2 linked regions of the Homo sapiens genome follow. The protein of the gene in region 1 purifies or fractionates together with the protein of each later gene. This does not show direct contact. Each region holds a gene or a part of one and is shown in the gene's direction. Other genes may lie near its edges. The genes, in order: CEP20 and CRYGD.

Region 1 (3,822 bases):
CAAAAAGATTAGCAAGGCATGGTGGCGTGTGCCTGTAGTCCCAGCTGCTAGGGAGGCTCAGGCATGAGAATCGCTTTAACCTGGGCAGCGGAGGTTGCAGTGAGCCAAGATCACACCACTGCACTCTAGCCTAGGTGACAGAATCAGACCCTGTCTCAAAAAAAAAAAAAAAAGTTCTGAAAGTTGTTTGCTTTACTATATAAATGTTTTAAATGACATTCCAGTTAAATCTAACTCTCCCACAAATCCTTGTGTAAAATTAATGTTCCAGGATCATATACTACCTTTGTCATTGTGTGTATAGTGAAGTCCCTGTTGCTTAGCGTAGCACTTTACACCTCTTTCTACCCGTCTGTTGTTCTATCTGCTCACACCTGATTTCTGATTATGCCTGGAAGACACTTTGCAACTTTATGCTGCTTTGCCTTGTAAACCATTCCCTTATCCTAGAAGCCCTACATCACCTTTCTCCCTCTTCTATTGGAGCATCTTAACTTCTATTGGAGCATCTTTCCTTTCTGTTGGCCCTGTTCAGATAGTAACTCCTTTATGGCATTTTCCTCTTTCTCTTCCTCTCATCTTCCCTTGTTTCTTTTTTTTTTCTTTTTTCCTTTTTGTGAGATAGGGTCTCGCTCTGTCGCCCATGCTGGAGTGCAGTGGCCCCATCTCAGCTCACCGCAATCTCCTCCTGGGTTCAACTGATTCTGCCTCAGCCTCCTGAGTAGCTGGGATTACAGGTGTGCACCACCATGCCCAGCTAATTTTTTTTCATATTTTTTTGTAGAGATGGGGTTTCACCATGTTGGCCAGGCCGGTCTCGAACTCCTGGCCTCAAGTGATCTGCCCACCTCCACCTCCCAAAGTGCTGTGAGGTTTTTTTGTTTGTTTTTTCAAGGCAGGGTTTCACTCTGTTGCCCAGGTCTCTAGAGTGCAGCGGCTTGATCATGGCTCACTGCAGCCTCGAACTCCTGGGCTCAAGCGATTCTCCCACCTCAGCCTCCCATGTAGCTGGAATTACAGGCATACGCTGGCATGCACCATCATGCCTGGCCAATTTTTGTATTTTTTTTAGAAATGGTGTTTTACCATGTTAGCCAGGCTGGTCTCCAATTCCTCAGCTCAAGTTATCCACCTACCTTGGCCTTCCAAAGTGTTGGGATTACAGGCATGAGCCACTGCACCTGGTAACAAGTGTTTTGAAAAGTATAAAAATTGTATAATTGAGAACAGTGGGAAAAATAATTGGGGGAATCTAAGCGTGACTTAGGATGAGCAGTGAGTTATTACATCATTTAATACAAGACATCATTTTACATTTAGCAGTTGATGGAAATAAGCAATGACTATTACTGGCTTCTTGGTAGCTTTTGAGATACCTACTTCAGATGAAAGTATTAAGAAGTTTGTGCTCACTTTAACAGCACATAAACTAAAATTGGAGCGGTACAGAGATTAGCATGGCCCCGGCAAAGGGATGACACGCAAATTCGTGAAATGTTTGATATTTTTTTAAAAAAGAAGGCCGGGCGCATTGGCTCACGCCTGTAATCTCAGCACTTTGGGAGGCCGAGGCGGGCAGATCACGAGGTTAGGAAATGGAGACCATCCTGGCTAACACGGTGAAACCCCGTCTCTGCTAAACATACAAAAAATTAGCCGGGCAAGGTGGCGGATGCCTGTAGTCCCAGCTACTTGGGAGGCCGAGGCAGGAAAATGGGCGTCAAACGGGGAGGTGGAGCTTGCAGTGAGCCGAGATCGTGCCACTGCACTCAGCCTGGGCGACAGAAGCGAGACTCCGTTTCCAAAAAAAAAAAAAAAAGTAAGTTTGAGAGAGGATGAGGAAGCAAAAAAAAAAGTTGCTAAAACGGCTTTATTTTTTAAAAGTTAGGTAACTTCTTTAAGCCCTTGTTTCTCACACTTCAGTGATTGGCATTCACAGAGTTTGCCATAGTCACATATTACTCATATTATTTACTTACAGATCTGCAGTGCTGCATCTGAAACCACTGAGGCCAGATACATGTTTGAAAATCCAAATGCTGTCGGGTTTTAAAATGACATGCCTGTAGTCCTAGCTACTTAGGAGGGTGAGGCAAGAAGATTACTTAAATCCAGGAGATTGAGGCTGCAGTGAGCCATGATCTTGCTGCTGCACTCCAGTGTGGGCCACACAGCGAGAGTTCTTTTTTTTTTTTTCGAGACAGAGTCTCACTCTGTCGTCCAGGCTGGAGTGCAGTGGCGTGATCTCGGCTCACGGCAACTGCCGCCTCCCAGGTTCAAGCGATTCTCCTGCCTCAGCCTCCCAAGTAGCTGGGACTATAGACGCATGCCACCACGCCTGGCTAATTTTTTGTATTTTTAGTAGAGACGGTTTCACCGTGTTAGCCAGGATGGTCTCGATCTCCTGACCTCATGATCCTCCTGCCTCGGCCTCCCAAAGTGCTAGGATTACAGGTGTGAGCCATCGGCCCAAGACTTCAATTCTTTAAAAAAAAAAAAAAAGTAATATGGTACATCTACCAAATACTACATGTATGTGCCAGGGAGTCCTAAAGTAGTATTCCACAATCACATTAATATTTTCTTTCTCTTTTTTTTTTTTTTTGAGTGCAATGACATGATCTCAGCTCACTGCAACCTCTGCCTCTTGGGTTCAAGTGACTCTTCTGCCTCAGCCTCCTGAGTAGCTGGGATTACAGGAGCATGCCACCACACCCGGCTAATTTTGTATTTTTAGTAGATACGGGGTTTCTCCATGTTGGTCAGGCTGGTCTTGAACTCCCGACCTCAGGTGATCCTCCTGCCTTGGCCTCCCAAAGTGCTGGGATTACAGGCTTGAGCCACCACACCCAGCACATTAATGTTTTCACACAAAGTAAGATAAAGTCTGTAATAGCCTTGTTAATAGCCTTGTTAGGTCAACCCTTGCCATCTGATGATTTTTTGCCAGATATATGAAGAGAATCCAGTTTTCAGAATTTTGCATTTCAGAATTACAGGCAAGTTATTGTGAGGCCGCACTTTTCTTTATCTTTTTGAAACTTATTTTAAAAGATAAACCTTAATCCATGAATTTGCAAGTTGCCTCTCCCTTCTGCACTCAAGCGATCCTCTCACCTCAGCCTCCCAAGTAGCTGGGACCACAGGTGCATATTACCTTCTGTGGCTAATTTAAAATAAAATTGCTGTAGAGCTAGGGGACTCGCTATGTTGTTCAGGCTGTCTCAAACTCCTGTTTGAGGCCAGGCTGGCCCCCCAAAGTCCTGGGATTACAGGCCTGAGCCCCCATGTCCAACCCAAAATTTTAATCACAAGTACATTTTTTTGAATATTTATTTAAAAAATAAAACTTTTAACATTTAAAAATCATCTTGAACCAGTTAACACTTTGGGGAAGATTAAAGTAAACAAAGAGACCTGTTTTATATTACTAGGTGACGCTTTCATAAGAGTTGCGGCATCTTATTAAATAAAGAAACTTACTTTCCTGGTTTCCCTGTGGCATGGAAAAATTAGTGTGATATTATTCCAGAATTTGGTAGCTTAGAACAACAACATAGATTATTTGTGGAATATTCGGGGATTTGGGATTGGCTTAGTCACGTAAGTCTAGCTCAGGCTCCCCCTTGAGGTTGGAGTCAAGATGCCAGCCAGGGTTGTAGTCGGAAGCCTTGAATGTGGCTGAACTATCTGCTTCCAAACTCATAATGATATTGACAGGCGGCCTCAATTCCTTACTGCATGTAACTTTCCAGGGCTGCTGAAGTGTCCTGAGGCATCTGACTTCTCCCAAAGGCAGCAATCCAAGAGAGAAAGCAAGGA
Region 2 (4,565 bases), on another chromosome or scaffold:
AGTTTATTTTATTTTATTTATTTATTTTTTGAGACATGGTCACACTCTGTTGTCCAGGATGGAGTGCAGTGGCACAAACCCAGCTCACTGCAGCCTCGACCTCACAGGCTCAAGCGATCCTCCCATCTCAGCCTCCTAAGTAGCTGGGGCTACAGGCGCGCACCACCATGCCTGACTAATTTTTTCACTTTTTTGTAGAGAAGGGGTCTCACTATGTTGCCAGGGCTGGTCTCGAACTCCTGGGCTCAAGTGACCCTCCCACCTTGGCCTCCGAAAGTGCTGGGATTACAGGTGTGAGCCACCACACCCAGCCACAAGTTTATTTTCCATTTCAATAGCCTCCAATTATTAGCCACTAGAGACTCTTAACTTCCTTGAGTTAGGATCCTTACCAATTTTTGAGCACCTACCATACGCCTGCTATATGTAGCAATGGGGATGAAGAAAACAATCAAAACAAAACAAAAGAAAAAGGTATTTCCCTACCACCGTAGAGCTCTATATAGAAAGAATACAAAAAAAAAAAAGCAGCCAGAAAATAAGAATTAAAATAATTTGTATTGCACATAGTTGGTGTTTAATTCATAAATACCACTTACAAAGATTTATGACTCAAAGACAAGACAAAGTACTTCCATGGGTTGACACAGGGCTGTAAGCAATTCTTTGAACATGAAAGAAGCTGGACACATAGGTCATATTCCACTCCAGTACTCTTCCCAGTCCATCAAACTGCTCTCTTCCAGGCCAATAAGTACTTTCTGAAGTCTTCCTCGAGTCCAACTTCTAGATTTTTATTCCTTCCTCTCCCTGCATCATTCCAGCCATAGCTCCCCTTTGTGTTCATGCAATTAATTTCGTCTGAGTCAAAGGCCTTGTGTACTCTCGCTCGTTCAGAGGGCAAAGGTGTATTCTAGATCCTACCAGAAATAAGTTTCTTAGGAATTTGGTTTTATTTTATAACAAGCTAAGAGATCATGTTTTTGTGTTTCAAACATATTACTTTTTCTAATTTCCTCAAACTTAGATATTTCCCTTTTTAGTTCTTTCTGAGATTAAGCATCTTAGAACTATTCTCTCTTTTGAATCACGGCACCACCTTTAGCTAAGAGAAAAACATCTAATTCTCAGCTACTTCCAGGCATAATTGCAACAAAATCAGACCCAATATTGAAGATTCACGTTTGCTGTGTGTTTTACCATAATAAAAGTTCGAAATTCTGTGAACTCTCTTAATAAAATGTTCCAATTTCTTACACCCTTTCATGATGACGTTCTCTTAAAGGACTAACTTGAAATTTTCAACATTCAGTTAAGCCCATTTCCTTCCTATTAACAATCAGTATTCAATATTGTGGCACGTAAGTAATACTGTAGTTCTGACAGATTAATTTATATTTGCCTTATTAAGAGTCGTTGCTTTTTTTGCTCCCCGACTTAAATTTTTTTTGTTTTTCCCCAATCTATACGAATAAAAGCGTGAACTATATGTGAAATAGCTGAAGCTCCACTTCCATTATAAATAGACAATGTCCCAAATTGCCGTTTTACAAACATTCTCAATAGCATCAGCCAGTGATAGCAATCCGAATACTCCAGAGAGAATGCGACCAAAACCCACAACAAGCCCCGTGGTCTAGCACAGCAAAGAGAAAAAAAGAGAACACGAAAATGCCCTTGCTCCCCTCCGGGGGCCCCTTTTGTGCGGTTCTTGCCAACGCAGCAGCCCTCCTGCTATATAGCCCGCCGCGCCGCAGCCCCACCCGCTCAGCGCCGCCGCCCCACCAGCTCAGCACCGCCGTGCGCCCAGCCAGCCATGGGGAAGGTGAGCCCAGCCTGCGCCCCGGGACCCCGGAGCTTCCTCCATCGCGGGGGCCAGAGACTGGGGCAGGAGCAGGCCTGTGAGACCTCGCCTTGTCCCGCCTTGCCTTGCAGATCACCCTCTACGAGGACCGGGGCTTCCAGGGCCGCCACTATGAATGCAGCAGCGACCACCCCAACCTGCAGCCCTACTTGAGCCGCTGCAACTCGGCGCGCGTGGACAGCGGCTGCTGGATGCTCTATGAGCAGCCCAACTACTCGGGCCTCCAGTACTTCCTGCGCCGCGGCGACTATGCCGACCACCAGCAGTGGATGGGCCTCAGCGACTCGGTCCGCTCCTGCCGCCTCATCCCCCACGTGAGTACATCCTCAAGTCAGGACCCAGGCCCTCAGGACACTCACTGGATGGTTTCAAGCAAAAGTTAAACATTAGAAGTAGTGATCAGTCACAATAACTGAGAGTGGACAAAAGATGAACTATAGTGGATTAAGTCAATAGAGTTTGCTCCCCACATAAGCAAAGTATTACCCAGACACCAGTTAATCACAATTAATCCACAAATATGTATTGAGTAGGAATGTGTCTCCTGCCCTAGGGGTTGTATAAGACTTAAGTCCTATTCTGGAATCATTTAGAATGGAGTTGTAGAAAAACCACTAATACCCAATAGAAGAATAAATGCTAGAGCGTACAGCAGTTACTGAGCAAACAGGGTAATTTCTTTTGAGACTTTTTCCCGTTTTTGCTCCTCTCTTGCATATTTTGGGTTTTCCCAACCTATATAAGTAAGACTTTCCTTCAAAGGAGAGCAACACACATATTTTACACATGTGTCCCTTTTATCCCATATGTGTGTTAGAACACTAAAGTTTATGCAAAATTCGTCCTTGGACTTACTGATGTTTCTTCCTCCATTTTTCTTCATTGCATTCACAAGTTATTGACTTAGAATTAATTGTTCTTTAATATATGAAGATATTTAACATTTTATATTTTAATATATTTTAAATATTTATATTTTAATATATTTAAAACACTTATATTTTGAATAGAAGGCTTATATATTTAACATATTTTATTTATGTCATTGATTTAAATGATGCATTATCATTTAATTCAATATATTAAATGATATATTTAATATATTTTAAATACTTATATTTAAAATACATATTTTTATATTTTAAATATATTTACATTAAATATATTTAATGAATATAATGTATTTAATAATATATTTATTTAATAAATATGTATTTAATATATTTATATAACTACATAAATTATATTATATTTTAAATATATTTAACATATTTTAAATATATTTTAATATATTTTTAATATATTTCATTTACATTATATGTGTGTATATATATATTTTTGTTGTTGTTGTTTTGTTTTTGTTTTTTGAAACAGAGTCTCACTCTGACGCCCAGGCTGGAGTGCAGTGGTGCAATCTCGGCTCACTGCAACCTCCGCCTCCTGGATTCAAATGATTCTCGTCTCTCAGTCTCCTGAGTAGCTGGAGTTACAGGAGCACGCCACCACACCCAGCTAATTTTTGTATTTTTATTTTTATTTTATTTTATTTTATTATTTATTATTATTATTTTTTTTGACGAAGTCTTGCTCTGTTCCCCACGCTGGAGTGCAGTGGCATGATCTCGGCACACTGCAACCTCTGCTTCCTGGGCCCTAGCAATTTTCTTCCCAAGTAGCTGGGATTACAGGCACCCGCCACCACACCTGGCTAATTTTTGTATTTTTAGTATAGACAAGGTTTCGCCATATTCGTCAGGCTGGTCTTGAACTCCTGACCTCAAGTGATCCACCTGCCTCGGCTTCCCAGGGTGCTGGGACTACAGGCATGAGCCACTGCCCCACCCCTTATATTTCTGTATTTTAAATATATTTTATTTATATTTTAGTAAAGTTATTTTAAAATAAAATATAATTTGTAAAATAAATATAATTTTAATTTATACTTATAAAATATAATTTGAATATAATTATTAAAATAAAATATGATTAACTTTAAATAAAATATAATTTTATACATTTTATAATATATTTTAAATATAGTATATAATTAAATATGTATTAGATATCATATGTATATTAAAATTATACATTATTTAAATATATTTCTTTATAATTTAATGTTTATTTTAATATTAAAACATTTCTTCAAAATGGTATAAAATAGTAATAAGCTGTTACAGGTTTGGATTTGCATGTGGTACAGGATACTGAGCCTAGGAGGCAGCTCATCCTAAGAAATAGCTGAATATATTAAAGAGTGAGATTTCCTTCTCAATTTCTTCACCACACTTCATAATCTTGAAAAGGTACTGAATCTCTGTGCTCGGTAATGAGGAGTTTATAAATATTCAGAATTAATTAAATTTTACCATGTATTTCAAAATGGCTTGAGCGGGTCCTCACCAAGCTGGACTGCCTAACAATGCATTGGAATCATTTCACACTTGCTTTTCTTCTCTTTTTATTTCTGGGTCCGCCAGTCTGGCTCTCACAGGATCAGACTCTATGAGAGAGAGGACTACAGAGGCCAGATGATAGAGTTCACTGAGGACTGCTCCTGTCTTCAGGACCGCTTCCGCTTCAATGAAATCCACTCCCTCAACGTGCTGGAGGGCTCCTGGGTCCTCTACGAGCTGTCCAACTACCGAGGACGGCAGTACCTGCTGATGCCAGGGGACTATAGGCGCTACCAGGACTGGGG

What was found.
Region 2: the proteins of CEP20 (region 1) and CRYGD purify together in Homo sapiens (affinity purification with mass spectrometry; one large-scale study listed by BioGRID and IntAct). This does not show direct contact.

Annotation. Positions count from the first base shown.
Region 1 is NC_000016.10:15,874,850-15,878,671, reverse strand, and holds part of CEP20 (centrosomal protein 20), read left to right. Parts: intron 1-3,822. UniProt on the Homo sapiens protein: Involved in the biogenesis of cilia. Required for the recruitment of PLK1 to centrosomes and S phase progression.
Region 2 is NC_000002.12:208,121,725-208,126,289, reverse strand, and holds the start of CRYGD (gamma-crystallin D), read left to right. Parts: upstream 1-1,765; 5' UTR 1,766-1,816; coding exon 1,817-1,825; intron 1,826-1,935; coding exon 1,936-2,178; intron 2,179-4,344; coding exon 4,345-4,565. UniProt on the Homo sapiens protein: Crystallins are the dominant structural components of the vertebrate eye lens.